2 separate regions of the Homo sapiens genome follow, and region 2 is reported to be linked to region 1. The links are microRNA targets in miRTarBase. Many come from high-throughput screens and were not tested one by one. Region 1 holds a microRNA gene; the other region holds the end of a gene's coding sequence.
The links. The annotated mature microRNA hsa-miR-2277-3p reads UGACAGCGCCCUGCCUGGCUC and lies in region 1 at 827-847, opposite strand. An mRNA with a match to its seed (bases 2 to 7 or 8) in the 3' UTR can be bound and repressed. Matches are read on the target gene's strand: a 7mer-m8 pairs with bases 2 to 8, a 7mer-A1 pairs with bases 2 to 7 and ends in A, and an 8mer does both.

Region 1 (4,146 bases):
AAGCAGAAAACTAAAAGGATAATTTTAGCCCCACTTAGCCTTTCAGAAGAAAAAGGCTGCAGAGCACAAAGGTTTCGTTTCCTGATGACAATAAAAAAATTCTCTCCCTAGAAGGGCCTAACTCCAGGAAAGCTCAGAATAGATCATTCTGGAAAGGATTAACAACAACCTTTCTCCACAGAGAGATTTAAAAAGCAAAACTTAAGTGTGTTATATCTAAATTACAATGCCACACAGTACACATTATGTGTTTAAAAAGTAAAGTCAATCCCAGTGATAACAGTTGGAAATTCCATTGAAAATGGGACCTTCACACCTACACTTAAAAGAGCTGCCCATCATTGTTTTGGTTTTAACAGTCTCTTCTGAAATCAGAGACTTGTGTAAACTCTCACAATTAGCTGGCAAAAGGATTTTCAGCAGTAATGCGGATTCAGTACTTTATAGATTTTTATGCAGAGTTGTTTTTTTTTCTGGTCCCGAAATGAAAACAGGGAGAGAACAATTTGCATTCCCCAAACTACATGGTACATCATGGCATTCAGGTTCTGAATTTGAAATCGGCTTTGGAGTGTGTGTGGAACTTCCTTAAAAAAAAAAAAAAAGAGGTGGGTAATAAGATGCCCTCAGGGAAAAACCTAGTGAAAATGGAAATCTGAAGTCTGGAATAGAAGTTTGCTCCAGTTGAGAGCGGGGAAAGATGGACATGATTAAGGAGGGGGAAGCAGCAGCGGCTCCGCTACGGCGGGCGCTAGGACCGCGCCGACGCCGCCGGACCCGCAGCGCCCGCGCGGTCTCCTTCAGGGCAATTAGAGCTTCGCCGGCCGAGCCAGGCAGGGCGCTGTCAGCCTTAATGTGAGCGCTGACTGGCAGCGCTCAGCCCGCGCTCAGCCCGCAGGAAGCACGACCAGTGAACCCATATTGCTTTGACAGTTGCACTCATCTAGAAATAATGCAAAACGCTATTTAGATGTATATATCACGACCCTGGGCTCTGGGAAGAAAACAATCTAATGAGGGGCTGGGAGTCCGCTCGACACAAGCAGTGAGGAGGCGTGCGGGTGGGTGCGCCAGGGCGGCCTCCCCCGTCGCGCTCGCTCCTCTTACAGCTCTTCGTGCTTGATGCGGTGGGAGCGGCGCGTCACAGCCGGCTTCAGGGAGCTGGTCTTGGCCTCTGAGGCTTCGGTAAAGAATTTGAAAATAGACGGAAAGCTCTTCCAGGAAGTTAGCTCGTGACGGTCGGTGCCTGCAAAGAACAACACATTCGGTTACCAGGTGGCCACGCGGGGCCAGGCGCGGTGAGGGCGGCGAGGGCCAGGCCGAGCCCCGGCTCCCGACCACCCGGTCCCGCCCCTCCCCGCCCCTCCCGCCTGCGCCCCGCCTCAGCCGCCCGCGCCCCGCCCCTCAGCCAGGACCCCCGCCCCCTCGCGGGCGCGGGCCAGCCGACTCCCAGGGCACAACTAGGGCTGCGGGGTCACTTGCCCCCTGGCTCAGAGGAACTCAGACTTCGCTATCCGCGGCGTCTAGGCGTCTCCGGCCTCAGTCCCCATCCCTCTCCCAACGCGGGGACGCGGCCCGGATCTGTCCCGGGGTCGTCCGAGGCGCGGCTGGCCGCCCGAGGCCTCCGCCTCTCCGGGCCAATGGAAGCGCTGGGCGGGAAGGGCCACTCCCTCTCCCTCCGGGAAACCACCCACTCCCGAGACTCGGCGCGCGCGGGGATTGGTTTCCCCTGCGTGCGGGATCGCACAGCGCCTGTTTCCTTGCTTCCCAAGGGGGTGGTGTGGAGGGGAAGGGGGAATGATTTTTCTTGCGTCTCCCGGAAGCTGTGCTGTTAGACACAATTACCTCAGCTAGGTCACTGAGACCAAATCATACGGGACGCTTAATGAAGGACCGCATTCAAAAGGGATTACGCCTTGAAGTGTCCTGGCGGGCGACATTTTTACAGATTTTAAGGGGCAAATTTAGAACAGCTAAAAAAAAGGTTTCAAAGCCGTGACTACTAAAAGAGCATCTAGGCCTCCCATTTTATCAGGAGGAATTCAACTTAGAAAATGCAGGTTAGTTGTCAATTTATGGGGTTACTTTATTTTACTACGGCTTCTCTCTGTGGTTTCGATGTAATACTAATGTACAGCATGTTTTCAAATCAAATCGACCTTCAGTTTAACACAGGCAGCGGATAACACGGATGCAAGCATAAGAACAGATGAGGAAATACATTTAGCTATTTTTGACTCCCTGTGATGGCTTATGTAGCATTTTACCAGTGGCTTCATAAATGAGCACTTTTTAAAATTAAAAATTAAAATAATTACAGACTTCCACAGAAATAATGAGTGAATAGCTTTTAAACAGTTGAAATCTCTTCCTAGATCACTCAATTATGCAGAGAGATACCGCTTGGAAGTCTCCGGATTCAGGGCCTCAGTCTGATACTTTAACATTGTTAATGATAATTCTTTAGTCTGTAATAGTAGGTCATTGCTATGGTTACTCTACAATGGTGCAACACTTTGCTTTCCCCTTCAGCTATTCGCTGAGACCTGGTAACCACATTTGTTGCCTAGCAACAGTTTTGTGACAGTATCACAATCTAGGAGTTACAACAATAAGGATGCTATGGCTGCTGTCGGCCAGAGAGCAGAAAGCTACAGTCTGTGCCTGACTTAGCTGTGGGAGCTGGCCCTACTAGAGAACCCCTCTCTCTTTATCAGTGCCCTCCCAAGGATTCTCTCTATCCTCCTTTCCTCTGCAGACTGGCCTCATGAACTTGAATTTGAAACTAAGACCCAGTATTAAAGTCATATCCCCCAACTCAGACTAAAAATGAGGTCATTTTATTTGCTTACTCATTTTGGGCAAAATTCATTGTTACTCAATAGGAAGGAGGGATGAGTGTAGGTTTATCTTGTTAAATCCTAAAGTGCTAGGTGGATTTTGACAATTCTTCATAGAATTCTTGGGGGAAAATTATATATATATGCCTGCTTGCATCAATAGGTGTTATAATACATAACATCTAGATATTATTATATTTTTACTGATTTATTCAAATGACAATCTTAAAGGATTCTTTTGAATTTGGAGGCATTTATATTTTCCAAACCTAACTGAGCAGTTCTACATATGCTCAGACATACCTGCTTTAAATGATATTTGCGGGTAGATCTAGGAGGACCAGTTTCTGGATAGGGTTATCAAATGTGTGTCTCTATTCTATAGTGTTTGCAACCCTAGTTTCACTTCAGTAATAACTACACAGTTGCACTTATAATGGTAGGACATTTTAAAATCAATTGTAATTCATTTTGAAAGACCATTCTCAGATGCATACTACGTGGCAACACCCACCCCCAAATACAATAAGCCAAAAAAAAAAAAAAAGGTGTTAATTGTCTCTTTTCGTAACCATTTCCCAAGCTTACAGCCACATTTGGCATTTCCTCCATAGTGATCACACTTACACCTACTAGTGTTACTAAGGCTATGATCAATTTGTAAGCTTTCTCAGGGAATTCCCCTCATAATTCCTCCCACCCCTTGAAACCAATTCAATCTATGAATCTAGAGGGACCTAAGGAGTCAACGGTCTGAAGCAATTTTAACTCCTTTATTTCTTCTTTACGGGTAACAATCCTTCTGAAGGATGAACAGATTTCCCTGGTGATAAAATCACTACAAAAGCTTTTTAGTTTTAGCTTTTGATGACTCTCTGCTTGATTAGTCCTGGACTGAAAAGACCAGAGTCCCTGAGATAACTGAATACTTGTACTGGCTCTCAACATTTACTCTTGTAATTTAAGAGTATAAATAATGAGAATGTGTGCTTCTGTCAGACGAAGGGAAATTGCTAGGAGTAAAGGTAATAAGGTAGGTTAGCAACTGAATTACAGAGAATGGGGTGGAAGGGAGAGAATTCTCCCTAAACTAAGGAATGATAACATGAATATGTAATATAAAAATGTCTTTTCTAAATTTTTGGAAGTAGATTTTAAATGATTTTTAGAATACCATTCAGAAGTTGAATAATTACATGTCTAACTTGGACTGCATATATACATTTCAAGAATATGTTTGGAGACCATTTTCAAAAATTTAGGTCCAAAGTTCAGTGAAAATATTTACAGATGAATATGAAACTCT
Region 2 (3,000 bases), not on the chromosome of region 1:
CCCACACTGCTCTCCCAGAGGCTTGTGGATGGTGGTGACAAAGAGCCTGAGTACTGGGACAGGCTAAATGGCATGTGAATCACAGAGCAGCTGCCTGGATGACCTCGGGCAATCACTTTCCCTCCCTAGACCTGTTTTCCCATCAAAATAATGGGGACAGTAAGCCTCTTGTGGTCATGAAATGACACCCCCAGATGGGGTGATGTTCTACATGTTTAATCGCTGGTAAAGACCAGGCATCAATAGAGAAAGGATGACAAGTAGGGGTCCTGGTGGGCCCTGTGGGCAGGGTGAACCCTTTAGCCCCAGACTGTGGGGAGGGGAAAGGGGACAGGGAGAGGGGCACTTCTGAGCCAAGGCAATGGCCCTTTACTGACTGGCACAGGGCACCATAGGGCACGGTTAATTCTGTGCGCCCCGCCCGCTCTCAGCCGTCTTAAGGCTGAGCCTGCCAACCCGGGACTCTAAAAGGCTGTGTCCAGGGCCTCAACCTCCTCACATTTCAGAGGGGACCCTGTTATCCCCGGGAGGAGGGAGAGGTCCCCAACCATCAGGATTCCAAGGAGGAGAGGAGGCAGAGAAGCGAGGAGCGCGGCACGGAGCTGTCTTCTCCCCAGGGAGGGCAGGAGTTGAGGCTGGAACGTGGAGACCTGCGGAGGCAGACACCAGAAGACCCGCGCACAGACGCACGCAGCCCCTGGGGCCTCGTAAACCGGATTCCAGGCGCTTTTGGCCTGGCTACCGCAAGTCCTGCTCCCCCTGGGCCGGCGCGGGGAAGCTATGCTGAGGAGGATCCGGGCCTGGCCCAGGGCCCTGCCTCCTCGGGAAAACAGCACCATATTAGCACTTAGCCTGTGAGGCTGGGGTGGGCGGGCGGCAGGAAGGGCCTCGGGTGCCAGAGGAATGAGCCCCCTTTTTGCTGGATCCCAGAGGGCCATCACCCTAAACCTAGGTGCCTGTCCACCACTCTGCGCATGTGTGCCGGCTCCTGCCAGGGCTAGCAGACCTTACCTGGGATCTTGGAGGTGGCGGGATAACCAGGGAAGACATGTCATGGCAGAGTGGGCCTGAGGGGGTGCACAGGCCAGACCCAGCAGCCCAGTCTGGCAGCCAGGGCTTCCGGGCCAGCTCAATGTCTCCCCCCGCTGTTCACATCCGTCAGTGCCCTGGGTGGGCCCCAGAGCCGCTCAAACCATGCCTGGCACTTCCATCCTCAGCATGGCTCCGGGAAGAAGGTGCTTTCATCCCCTGCACTGTAGCAACGAGGACTCTGAAGCACAGGTCACCTGCCACCCGGGCTCATGAGGCCAGGTGGAGGGTCTGGCACTGCCCCAGGTTGCTGGGTGTTGTGGTCCTTGTCACCGGTGCGACCAGCTAAGGGGACATCAGCCCTCAGGTGCTCCCCATCGGCCACACACATCCCGCCCCAACACCAGCCTTCTGAGAGTCCTCACCACCCTTGAATAAAGGCCCCTTTCATGTTTCCCTCCCGTGTCCCTCTTCCACTCACTACCTCCAGAACGGCCTGTAAGCTGTTCCCTCAGCCTGGACTCTGGGCTCACAAGAAGTCAGACTGTAAGCTGTGGAGCCTCGTTTCCTGGGTTCAAATCCCCCCTGTGCCACTTTCTGGCTGTAGGGTCTTGGGCCAGTGACCTCCTTCACCTCTAGCCTCTGTTTCCTCATCTTTGAACTTGGGGTTAGCTTGGCACCTGCCCCACAAAGTGGCTGTCAGGACACTGGGGCGACGCAGGAAGGCCAGAGGTCAGCGTCTGGCTAGAGGTGGCCCTACGGTGTCACTGTCTCAGCCTGCCCCTCCCAGAAGCCTCCTCTGACCACCTGTTCTGTCTCACCTCCCCCATTTCCTATTGTGACTGCTGTAAACACCTGGCCAGATGTCTGCCTGCTCCACCACCCTGAATGCTTACTGACTGAATAAAACGCTGGGTGGTTTGAAGGGCTGGTCACATGGGCCACCAGGCCACCTCCCGAACGTCAGAGCCTCAGGTCCCCTCTCCTTCTTCTGGTGACCAGGCAGACGCAGAACCCAAGACATCACGGACAGCAAGGGATGTGCGCTGGCTGCTTTATTTAAGGGCTTGTGATTGACAGCTGTCCCCATCCCAGCCCTTGCTTCCTCTACAAAAGCAACTGAACATGAAACGGGCTTCCTGGTTACCATGGGGAGGGGGGCGGCTCCCTGTCAGGGCCCAGCCCAGGGACCTGGGGAACGGCGGCTTTGAATCCCCGGCCACGGGCACTAGAAGGTGGAGAAGGAGAGCGGGAAGTCCAGTTGAGATGGGCACGGTGCTGGTGAGGAGGCTGGAGAGGTCCTGTTCCAGCCTCTAGTGGGCTTCCCTTGTCCAGGATGTCAGGAAACAGTCCCCCAATTCCGCCGGGGGGAGCCAGAGCCCCAAGGCTGGGGGGCCAGGGGCTGCAGGGAACACAGCAAAGGCTTTCGGAGCCAAGTGAGATCAGTTCAGGCCCCTCAGGCCCAGGAACCCGACACCACCGCGTACCTGTGAGCACACACTCACGGCCACCCCAGTGACACGTGCAGCCACACACACCCACACTCACTCACACCCACACCCACACGCACACCCACTACACACACACACACACACACACACACACACACACACACACACACACACACGGCTGTGACAGCCCAGGACCCACACCCTGGACCCCTGGAATGTCTCTGGACCAGAACCGAACAGCTGGATCCACAGTACGCGGGGCTGCTCAGGGGGCGGGTCCTCTGTGTCGCTACTGATTGGCCGCCTCGCAGGCGTCTATCCAATCACTGTACACATCCACGGGTTCTGACAGATCTGGGCCACTTAGGTCAAGGGCGATCATTGGCATTGGAACCCTGCCCTGCATCTTCTCACCCCACAGAAATCACTAGGTGGCACCTGTTCCTCTGGACGGCTTTGGCCCTGCACCAGGGCACACAGTGGGCCAGATGAGCAGGGTCCGGACTCCAGCCCCCTCCCC

Region 2: the mRNA of ELOF1 is a reported target of hsa-miR-2277-3p. Seed matches in the 3' UTR shown: 7mer-A1 at 2,662-2,668 and 7mer-A1 at 2,104-2,110.

What each region holds. Positions count from the first base shown.
Region 1 is chr5:93,619,884-93,624,029 of GRCh38, forward strand. MIR2277 (microRNA 2277) reads right to left here and starts at 905; the gene lies at 813-905. It overlaps ARB2A (ARB2 cotranscriptional regulator A), which reads right to left. Exons shown (of 11, transcript NM_032042.6): 11 at 1-1,246. The coding sequence ends at 1,104. It overlaps LOC124901028 (a long non-coding RNA gene), which reads left to right and starts at 1,799. Exons shown (of 3, transcript XR_007058874.1): 1 at 1,799-2,060. RefSeq lists a silencer at 1,414-1,463.
Region 2 is chr19:11,550,977-11,553,976 of GRCh38, forward strand. ELOF1 (elongation factor 1) reads right to left here. Exons shown (of 4, transcript NM_032377.4): 4 at 2,070-2,834. The coding sequence ends at 2,770. Among named protein-coding and RNA genes, the nearest start is that of ELOF1, 6.8 kb to the right of the region's middle. RefSeq lists enhancers at 617-1,588, 958-1,252, 1,672-1,791.